Linked DNA regions of Homo sapiens: region 2 is linked to region 1. Evidence: fine-mapped expression QTL. A gene starts in region 1. The other region holds a variant in brackets. All regions are shown on one strand. Distances are from middle to middle. Region 1 holds the start of ANO4 (anoctamin 4). Region 2 has its middle 78 kb from the start of ANO4.

The links. PIP is the estimated chance that this variant, and not a neighbour inherited with it, causes the effect. A credible set is the group of variants that fine-mapping cannot tell apart.
Region 2: its variant is the best candidate, but not a certain one, in a credible set for the expression of ANO4 in subcutaneous fat (GTEx, PIP 0.64).

What each region holds. Positions count from the first base shown.
Region 1 is chr12:100,792,703-100,797,089 of GRCh38, forward strand. It overlaps ANO4 (anoctamin 4), which reads left to right and starts at 2,074. Exons shown (of 28, transcript NM_001286615.2): 1 at 2,074-2,325.
Region 2 is chr12:100,714,298-100,718,684 of GRCh38, forward strand. It overlaps a transcript of ANO4 not described here. Among named protein-coding and RNA genes, the nearest start is that of ANO4, 78 kb to the right of the region's middle. The variant T/C (reference allele first, on the strand shown) is at 2,610.

The DNA of each region.
Region 1 (4,387 bases):
CTGCAGTATTTTCCATTTCATGCATCATTATAATGCTGTGTATTCAAGGTATGAACCCGTTTCATCAACAGTATTAATCTCAATTCATTTAGGAGCTTTAAATAATATTCCCTTATTAAGTATATTCTTGATATGCTGCCCATGCTTTTACAGTGTCAGAAGCCGTTAATGCAGATAAAAACAAACATTCAGTTAAAGAACCTTCTCATATATTAATTCGATTTCAGAAATTATTTGTGCATTTATATTTCCTGAATGGCTTCGGTTATGACAAACATCTAACTAGGCTAATTCAGAGCTTTGAGGCTAAAGTCCAGCCTCATGGATTGGTTTAATCTGAAGAACATTAAAATAGTAGAACATTTTCTGTCTTGGCAAGAATCATAGTGTTGAAATTTCAAGAAGAAGATTTAAATTTGTCCATGAGACTGTAAACTTCTTGAAGGCAAGGACTCATCTCTGTAGCCCTGATGCATAATTGATGTTCTTCAAATGTTTGCTGATTTGAGTTGAACTGAGGAGAATAACAAAACAGCATTTGAGAATCAAAGTCTCCCAGGTTTTCCTTATATAATTTACAAGGACTTCCCTGGCAAACTATCCTTTCTTCTTCGTTTAAAAAATTTCACTTTATTATGTTCATCTTTGATGTGGAACATTTTTTATGGCCTTCTGCTGTGACTCATTTTGGTGCTGAGTTATCTGCTTCCTTGGAGCTCAGCCCTTCCTTTTAAGCTGTGGTATTCAGGCTCCCCAAAGTCAGCTTGCCTACGGGTAGAGATCACAGCAAAATGTGCAAATGGTATTCCAACTTCTAGGTAAAAACAGACAACTAAAATTAAAAACTCTACATCATGTAAGTCACCTGGAAAAAAAAAACAGAAAACAAAACCCGAGGGCATTTGTATATTCCTGTTAACTCTTGACTGACTAAAGGGAGTTATCTTTTCTGCAGTGATAAAAAGGTGGCCCAAGACAATCTCCCCATCTTACAAAAAGTTCTGAAGTTTTACTGTGGAGTCCAATTAAACTGGCATTTAACTTCAGAAACTACATCCCTATATAATGTAATCATCACAACCAAATACAAATTAATTAATATATATGGACAAAGTTTATAAGTTCAATATTAGAATAGGGGAAAAGGGAAGTAGGAAAAGTTTAGAGTCCTCCACGCATCCTTCATTTATCACCAAGAGATTTGCTCCTTTGCTCCTTCTGTTAGTGTAAGTCAGAATTTCTCAATTTTCAGTGTGTTTATGAATTGTTATTATTGTTTATCCCAAACACATATTTTGTCTTATAGGTGATTTAAGAGCTCTAAAAGGGACATGTTAACTATCTTCAGAAGCTCACCTCTAACAATATTTCTATACCTATATTATACAAGAAAACTAATGAAGATTGACAGTCAAATTCCTGGAGAGACCTTTGACCCTTCTCTGTCTTAAATTTTTCACTTCTGAAATAGAAAGCCGGGTCACTGGTCATCTTATCCTGCACTTTGGGCATAAAGAAGCTTAGGTCCAAAGCGCCATTACTGTACTCATGATGACCCCTTGAAGGCACATCAGTAGGGCTGTCTGGACTGTGACATGCCATCAGACATCATTTAGGGGACTTCAAGTCTGGCTTCTTGCAGAGATGCTGTGGGATGCCTCAAAAACTTCCTGCATGGCTAGTGTAACTATGGGGCTTTAGATCTTTGTTAAATACAAGCAAACATTAACAGCAGCAGTGGAGAGGATAAGTTGCCAATCCTCCCAAATTTCTTTTCCAGGCAGGGGGTTGTCCTGCCGCTCTCAGAACTGGCTGTCATCTGCTGCTCTCTTGTCACACTGACACGGCCCCCTGGCTGGGCTGATTGGTCGCTGGCAATAACTGATATGGAATACTGATGTTCTCTCCGGCAGTTCCTTCCACTCTAAAGAGACTCCTTTTCATCCCTCTTCTCGCCTTTCCTAGCCCAGCCTAGTGCCCACCCTCCCCCGACCATGCCTCCCCTGCACCTGGGGAGGGGGAGGACCAGTCCTGGGCGTGATGCTCTGAGACGGTGGTGAAATCCACCAGGCTGCTTTCACTCCGGCTCGCTCTCCGGAGAGTCCTGTTCCAGACTTCTCAGGGTTTTTACAGCACAAACAACTGCATACGGCCCGAGGGGAGGCTGAAAAGGACTTGTGTGTGGTGGTTTTATTGCCTGTCATCACTTTGCTGGCCTCCTCCCGACTGGAGCCTGGAGGTTCACAGTGGATTTCTTTCTGCCGAAGACACCAAGGCACTGAGGAAGGATCCCTTCTCCTTCTGTTGACTCTTTCTATTTTTATGGTAAGTGCTTACGTTGAATGAGCTGCTCTGTTGCTGCAGTGAACTGAACCGTTCGTTCCCCCTCTTCCCAGCTAAGCTTAGTGACCTTCCTTCTGCATTTCCTCTGTTTTCATGGATCTTGTCTGGGATGATCCAGCTTCAAAAATGCCAGGGGTCATTTGCCTGGAGTGTTTGTCTTTTTATCTTTTTTCCATAAACGTGAGCTCTTCTGCTGTGATACGAATATAAGTGCTCTGTCTTTGTCCTTGAAGCAGCAGCCGGGGAAATGTGTTCACGATGGTAAACTGCAGCAGCGTGCAGGGAATCTGTGGAGGATGACTGACAAATTTGGGCAGGATGAATCCTCAGTGTGCCAGGGGCACTCACTCAGGATCAGAAGGGCCGGGGGTGACCTGCCCACATAGCAAACTCTTCCATCTTTGTGGATAAAGATGAGCACACACGTGTGAGTTATGTTGAGTCTGCTGTGGGCAGCTGTGTTTTCTGCACCTGCCCGTGTGGGTCTGGGATGACCCTATATCTTGTGGGGTTTACAACTTGGGCAGGAACATTCTCAGCAGGAGGAATCCTGAGCTGGCAGACGGAGTAGACTGCATGACCTCATTGCTTCTTTCCCTTCTGAGTCTCAGGGTACCCAGTTCTGCAAACCATATTTTACAGGCTCTTCAGAGAGTGGTAGGGCAGTGATGACAGGAACATTTTTGAGTTGACAACATAGTTTTGTCCTCCTGCTAGGAGATAAAATACTTTGAGGTTATTAGAATGGTTAGACTTTTCTAGGAGAACATAAGCAGGTTTCTGACGAAGACTATGGATGTGGCAGATTGTTTATTCCAGGGACATTACTCTTACAATAGTGCTCTAATTTTTCACCTGGTCTCCTGAGGTTTGCTGCAAAGAGCATCACAACTTCAAGTCTATTACTGGCAGCTTCTTGACGCCCAAAGGAAACCAAGAACATTTTATTAGTTTCACTCCTGTGCGTTGCAGGAGTCTCTCTTAACAGGGATTTTTTTTTTTTTTTTTTGGTAGCAGGTGTGTCGAACTATTTTGGTCAAAGCATCATTCCAAAGAATAGCTTCGCAGTTGTAATTCTATTTAGTTATTTTCAAGTCTTGGACCGGAGGTGGGTTATCTTATTTGTGTAGGTTTTTCCATTCTGGTCCATTTCACTCTAGAGAGGGTTCTTGCCAAATGTAATTCAGTCTCTGATTCATAAGGTACTGAACTAATACAATGTGATTTTTTGTGATAAGTGAGGGGAGAGAATGTGGGGTGAAATTTCCAGTCTCTCCTCCTGCTCTTTGGGAGTTTGGAATGTAAAGTTCCCTAACTGCTTGCTCATTTTCACTACTTTTATGTCCCCTGTTCATGTGGATTTTTCTTGAAATAGTGGTGATGACATCAGACATATGCCTTTACCTTCTTCTCTGGGTCCAAAGTAGATGCGTTTGTTGTTGTTCTGTTTTTGTTTGTTTTTTATTTCAGTGAAGGGTTCCTTGCATTTGTAAAAGCATACGTTTAAATAAAAAACAAGAATTTGTAGATGTTTACATGTTAGCCCTGTTCAAGAGTAAAACCAGCACAGAGGTTAACAGCAAAAAAAAAAAAAATTCAAAACAATTTTTAAAATATTATCAGCATTGCTTGGCTTAGCTGTTCTAATATCCACTCTTCCCTACACTCGATTGTGGTTCGCGGCAATACTGTATTGTAATTTGACTGTCAGACTGCTCTGCTTCCTCTTTAATTCTTTAATGTTTAGCTGTTTACTTTCATCCTTAATGGTGTGTTCTTACTTTGCTTAATCTTTTTTTCTCTTTTTCTAATTGAAAGGATGTTATATAGTGCCTGGTAACTCAACTGAGGATACTCATTAAGATGGAAAGTGTTAGAATCAGCTTGGGTGTCATGGAAATAGACTCAGTATTTCTCACTGCAGGCAATTTCAGAATCATTTAGAACATATTTCATTTTAATTAGTAGCAACTTTAGCCTTGAGAAAAAACATTATTTAGGTTTCCTTTATTTTGCTAAACAGATTGTGTACCTATGCAATCAG
Region 2 (4,387 bases), 78 kb before region 1:
ATTCTACATCAAGTTGATTGTGGGCAATTGGAAACTAAAATACTTTTCAGATATATTTAAAAATGAGTATTTGCAGAATAGTTACTAAGCCACAAAATTGAAATGAATTATTAAAAATGTTAACTGCAGAGAGTCAGCCTCTTCTACCATCAATACAATGCAATGTTTAAGGCAGTTAATAAAAGTCAGTTTAAGTTCAGAACATGCTGAAAAGGGAAGAAGAACTAGTTTCTCTCAATCTATCATCTGAAAAAAAGTGTTTTCTTGGGAAGATTTAGAACACAGCTTTCATCAAAGTTGTGGCAGTTCATATTTTACTCCTGAAAACATGGAGAATGAATAAAACATAAGGAAATTTGAATGACAAGCTTGTCTTTATGAAATTTTATTGGCAAAATCACAAATCCTGGACCTCATCTTTCAAATGTCACTGCCTTAGTTAAGTCGTGTGTGAATCCTGCTAAGACAGAACCACTTGTTCCTCCTGGAGTTTCTGTAACACCCTGTATTTCATCACTGGTGTCATAATTCTTCCTTAACCTTTGTCCCCCTCAAGAATGTGAGGTAGGTGGAGACCACCCCTTCCCACTGCAGACCAGGACACAGGTAGCGGCTTAAAGATCTCATTACCACCTGACAACACAGATGCTGAGAACAACTGGAAGGCTCTTAAACCCATGAAGGCAGGAGGTTTATTTGTCTGTCAATTCCTCCCAAAGAGGCCAGGTCCCCTCGGTCTTTTATTTATTTATTTTTTTTGAGACGGAGTCTCGCTCTGTTGCCCAGGCTGGAGTGCAGTGGGGCGATCTTGGCTCACTGCAAGCTCCGCCTCCCGGGTTGATGCCATTCTCCTGCCTCAGCCTCCCGAGTAGCTGGGACTACAGGCAGGTCCCCTCAGTCTTAATTCTACTGTGGCACTGAATATCTCAAGGACTTGTAATGGTGTTATGTGGGGACAAGTTCAGGTAGCCTTAAGAGAGGTTAATTAATTAAATGCTACTTTTTGGTTCCTGCTAATTAGAAAGAACTGCCAAGAAGAATTAAAGTGCAATTCGTAACTCATTGTGATGGCCTTTCCTCATGACTCCATCTGAGCGGCAGCGATGGTAAATGGAGGAGAAAGCGCTGGATGTCAGAAGATAAGTTACAAACGGCCTTGGGGCCCAGCGCGGGCATAGAGGAGACTGGGGAAGCATCTCCAGGCTTAGGAAGGGGCACAAGAGGTGGAACAGACTTTAAGACGAGTGCCCAGACAGGGCTGCTGAGGTGTGGGGATGGTGAAGGGAGAACAAAGGCGCTGCCCAGGTCTGGGGGAGGCTTGGAGCGCTTGGGGAAGGCAAGCCTGGCCTGCATCGGCCCCCAGGCTAGGTGAGAGCAGGAGCTGAGAGCAGGAGCTGAGAGCAGGTTTCCCAGTCACTTTAGGCTCAAGGGTGGGCGGTTGCAATTTCAGCCTGGGGTTGGGTAGAGTGTGAGGCTGAAAAAAACCTGCGGGAGAGGCCAGTGGGGCCCTCAAGGGGCAAGGTCAAGGCAGGGAGCAGCCACCAAGACAGAGCCTCAGTTCTGATAGTGTCCCTGTCCCACCAGATCCCTGCAACCGCCCTGCGAGGTGAGCACAGCTGCAATGCTTAGCTCCATTTTACAGATGGGGAAATGGAACCTTAGAGACGGTGTCTTAACCAAGGGTCACCCGGCTGCTGGCTGGCTGACCGAGGGCCAATAAAGGACCAGATCCCACGCTCCCACTATCCTGGGCAGACCTGGCCCTCCTTAGGGGCTGGCTCCTCCTGTCGGCCGCAGTCTCAGCCTTGCGCTCACATGGGTAAGTGTGGGCCCCGACACTACATCCTAGAGCCTCGTCCACCGGTCACCCGCCGCCGCCTGGCTGCCCTCACCGAAGAGTGGGGAGGCAGGCGGAAGCGGAGGTTGGAAGCGCCCAACTCTGACGGCTGGAGAGCTGGAGAGCGCGGGAAGCTTCCCAGACAAACGCCGAGTTTTGTCTCCGCCAGATTTATTTGCCCTCGGTGCCTCCACCCGAGTAGGCGCAACCCCAAATGCAGCTAATGCCTTGACACCATCGCCCCCCAATTCCTCCCGCGCGGGCGTTTTACAAGGCCTGGTGATCACGACCTTCGACCCCGAGCCAGGAGGCCTCTGGGCCTTCCTTTTGGTGTGGTCTCAACTTTACACTTGGGAATGGCAAAGCCTCGCGGCAAGGGACGGGGTCGGGGTTGCACCTGACCCGAGGAGGCGTTGGGCGGCCTTCCTCTTTCCCCTGCTTCATCCCGCAATGGGTGCCACCGACTTATTGGGTCTCGTTCTCGCTCTCCCACTCCTTTCCCTCTCCTCAGCCAGCTGATTCTAGACGGAGACCCAGCACAATAGGGAAGGCGGGCTGAGACCAGCTCGGACATTCCATCACTCAACCTTGTGTGAGCTCGCGCCCTCATCAGATGCTGGGCAGGAATAGGACACCGGTGAGCGCCTCGTGGTAAGACAGAAACACAAACAGAGATGATAAGATGATGTACTGGGACAGGTCTGAACTGTTGGGGTCAGAGTTCGGTACTTAGTAGTCACCGACTTCACTAATAGAAGTGCGCAGGAGAAGG[T/C]TGCTACTCTCCCCTGTGCTTTGGTCTCACAGGCAAAGCCTTCTCCAGACTGTCCCCTGGGCTGGGAATCGCGCCCAGAGTCACGGGCGGCCAGACCCACCCCATGTGTTCCCCGGCGCGCTCTCCAGTGGAGCTTCCCTAGGAAAGGAGACCGTCCCGAGAGGCTGTGGCGCGCCTGGGACTCCCCGACCCTTGCCACGACATCCCTGCCACCCCTTTTGGCGTGAACCCACCGGGGATCCCGCCCGACGCCGGCTGCGCTGGGCCAAATCCGCGGCGCGCCTCTGCCGGGCACCTCCCACCTCCAGCTTCGCCCCTCCCCTCTCCCGGCCGCGCGTCCTCCGCGGCTGGTTCAATCCCCGCGGGGACCCGGAGCGCGGCTGCCGGTCTACGCCCTCTCTCCTGCCGCTCTCGCGGCGCAGCCCGGCCGGGGGCCCCCGCGCGCCGGCAGCTCTAGGGGCGAGCGCGGCGCGCTGACTGGGCGTGCTCAGCCGCGGAGCGCCCGGGCGCCGCTAGAGCCAAGCGCATGCACTCGCCGGGCCGGGCCGTCCAGGGGCGCAGCGCGCAGGGGGCCGCTCTAGCCGACGCCCTGGCCAGTCTGGGCAGGACGCGGGCCAGGATGGCCTCCCTCACCGCATACGGTAACTGGGGCCGTCGCGGGTTCCTGGGGCGGCGGGGCGGAAGGGAGGGGCCCAGGGAGCCGTCGAAACACCCGGGGAAACTTCGGGGTTCGCCTCTGCGGAGGGGTCTGGAAGGGAGGGAGACGGCGGCCGTGCGCGCCGCTCCTGAGGGGCCGATGTTCCGCGGGGTTTCGGGCCGCGGGTAACCCGGGAACCGGGTGTCTGCGGGAAAAACGCTTCAAAATTTGGGAGGATCTGGGAGCTTCGGGACTCTAGAAACATTCCCCTCGCTTCCGACCACTCAGGGGAAGGGACGCGGGTGTTAAGTCCTCCTCTAGCGGGGTGAGGCTTGGAGTTGGGAGATGTGCGTTCAGCCAGCGCTTATCTTGTCCCTGACTGACCTTGGGCAAGTTATTTAAACTTTTCAGCCTCTGCATTTCTCCGTCTGTAAATCAGAGAGATGAGAACATCTCTCTGACAGATGCTGTGGAGTTAAAATAATATGCACTGTAACATGTTTTTAATGCAAAAAAAGAAATCAGTTTGGAAATAAAAGTTTATGAAAAAGGAAGGCATTCATCGTTCCCCTGCCCATTGTTTTGTTAAATAAATATATATGAATAGACATATACATATATACATGTGTGGTATTGCATGGTTCTGAAGGAAAACAAAATCACTGTGTGAAGGTTTCAGGCTCAGCTAGAAATCCTAGCGCGCTGGGGAAGCCAGCAAGGCTTCTTATCAACGTTCTTGCTTGTGTGGATAAAGCAATTCTCTTTAGCCCTTTATCAGAAATACTGCTGAGACTTGGTTATAGGAAGCAGAAACTCAAGTAGACCTCCCTCCCTTCCTCTTGCTTGCAGTCAGTTGTTGCGATAAGATCTAGATTTGGCATTTTAAAGGGGAAAGCTGTGAGCAATTGATGGGGAATGTTCTGCAGGGACATCTCAAAGCCTGGGATGGGTGGGACGGAAATTACTATTCTTTGGTGTGGAATCTTCATTCTCTAGGCCAGTGATGTCCCCTGCTCATTTTACCAAGGTTAACAGGGTCAGTCTCTTTCTCTGGATTTAAATTGTTTAAAATGATCATTTAGGTGGCTCAGAGGGTTTGCAATTGATGCCTGGGAACCAGTAACAAATTGTGAGCAGATTA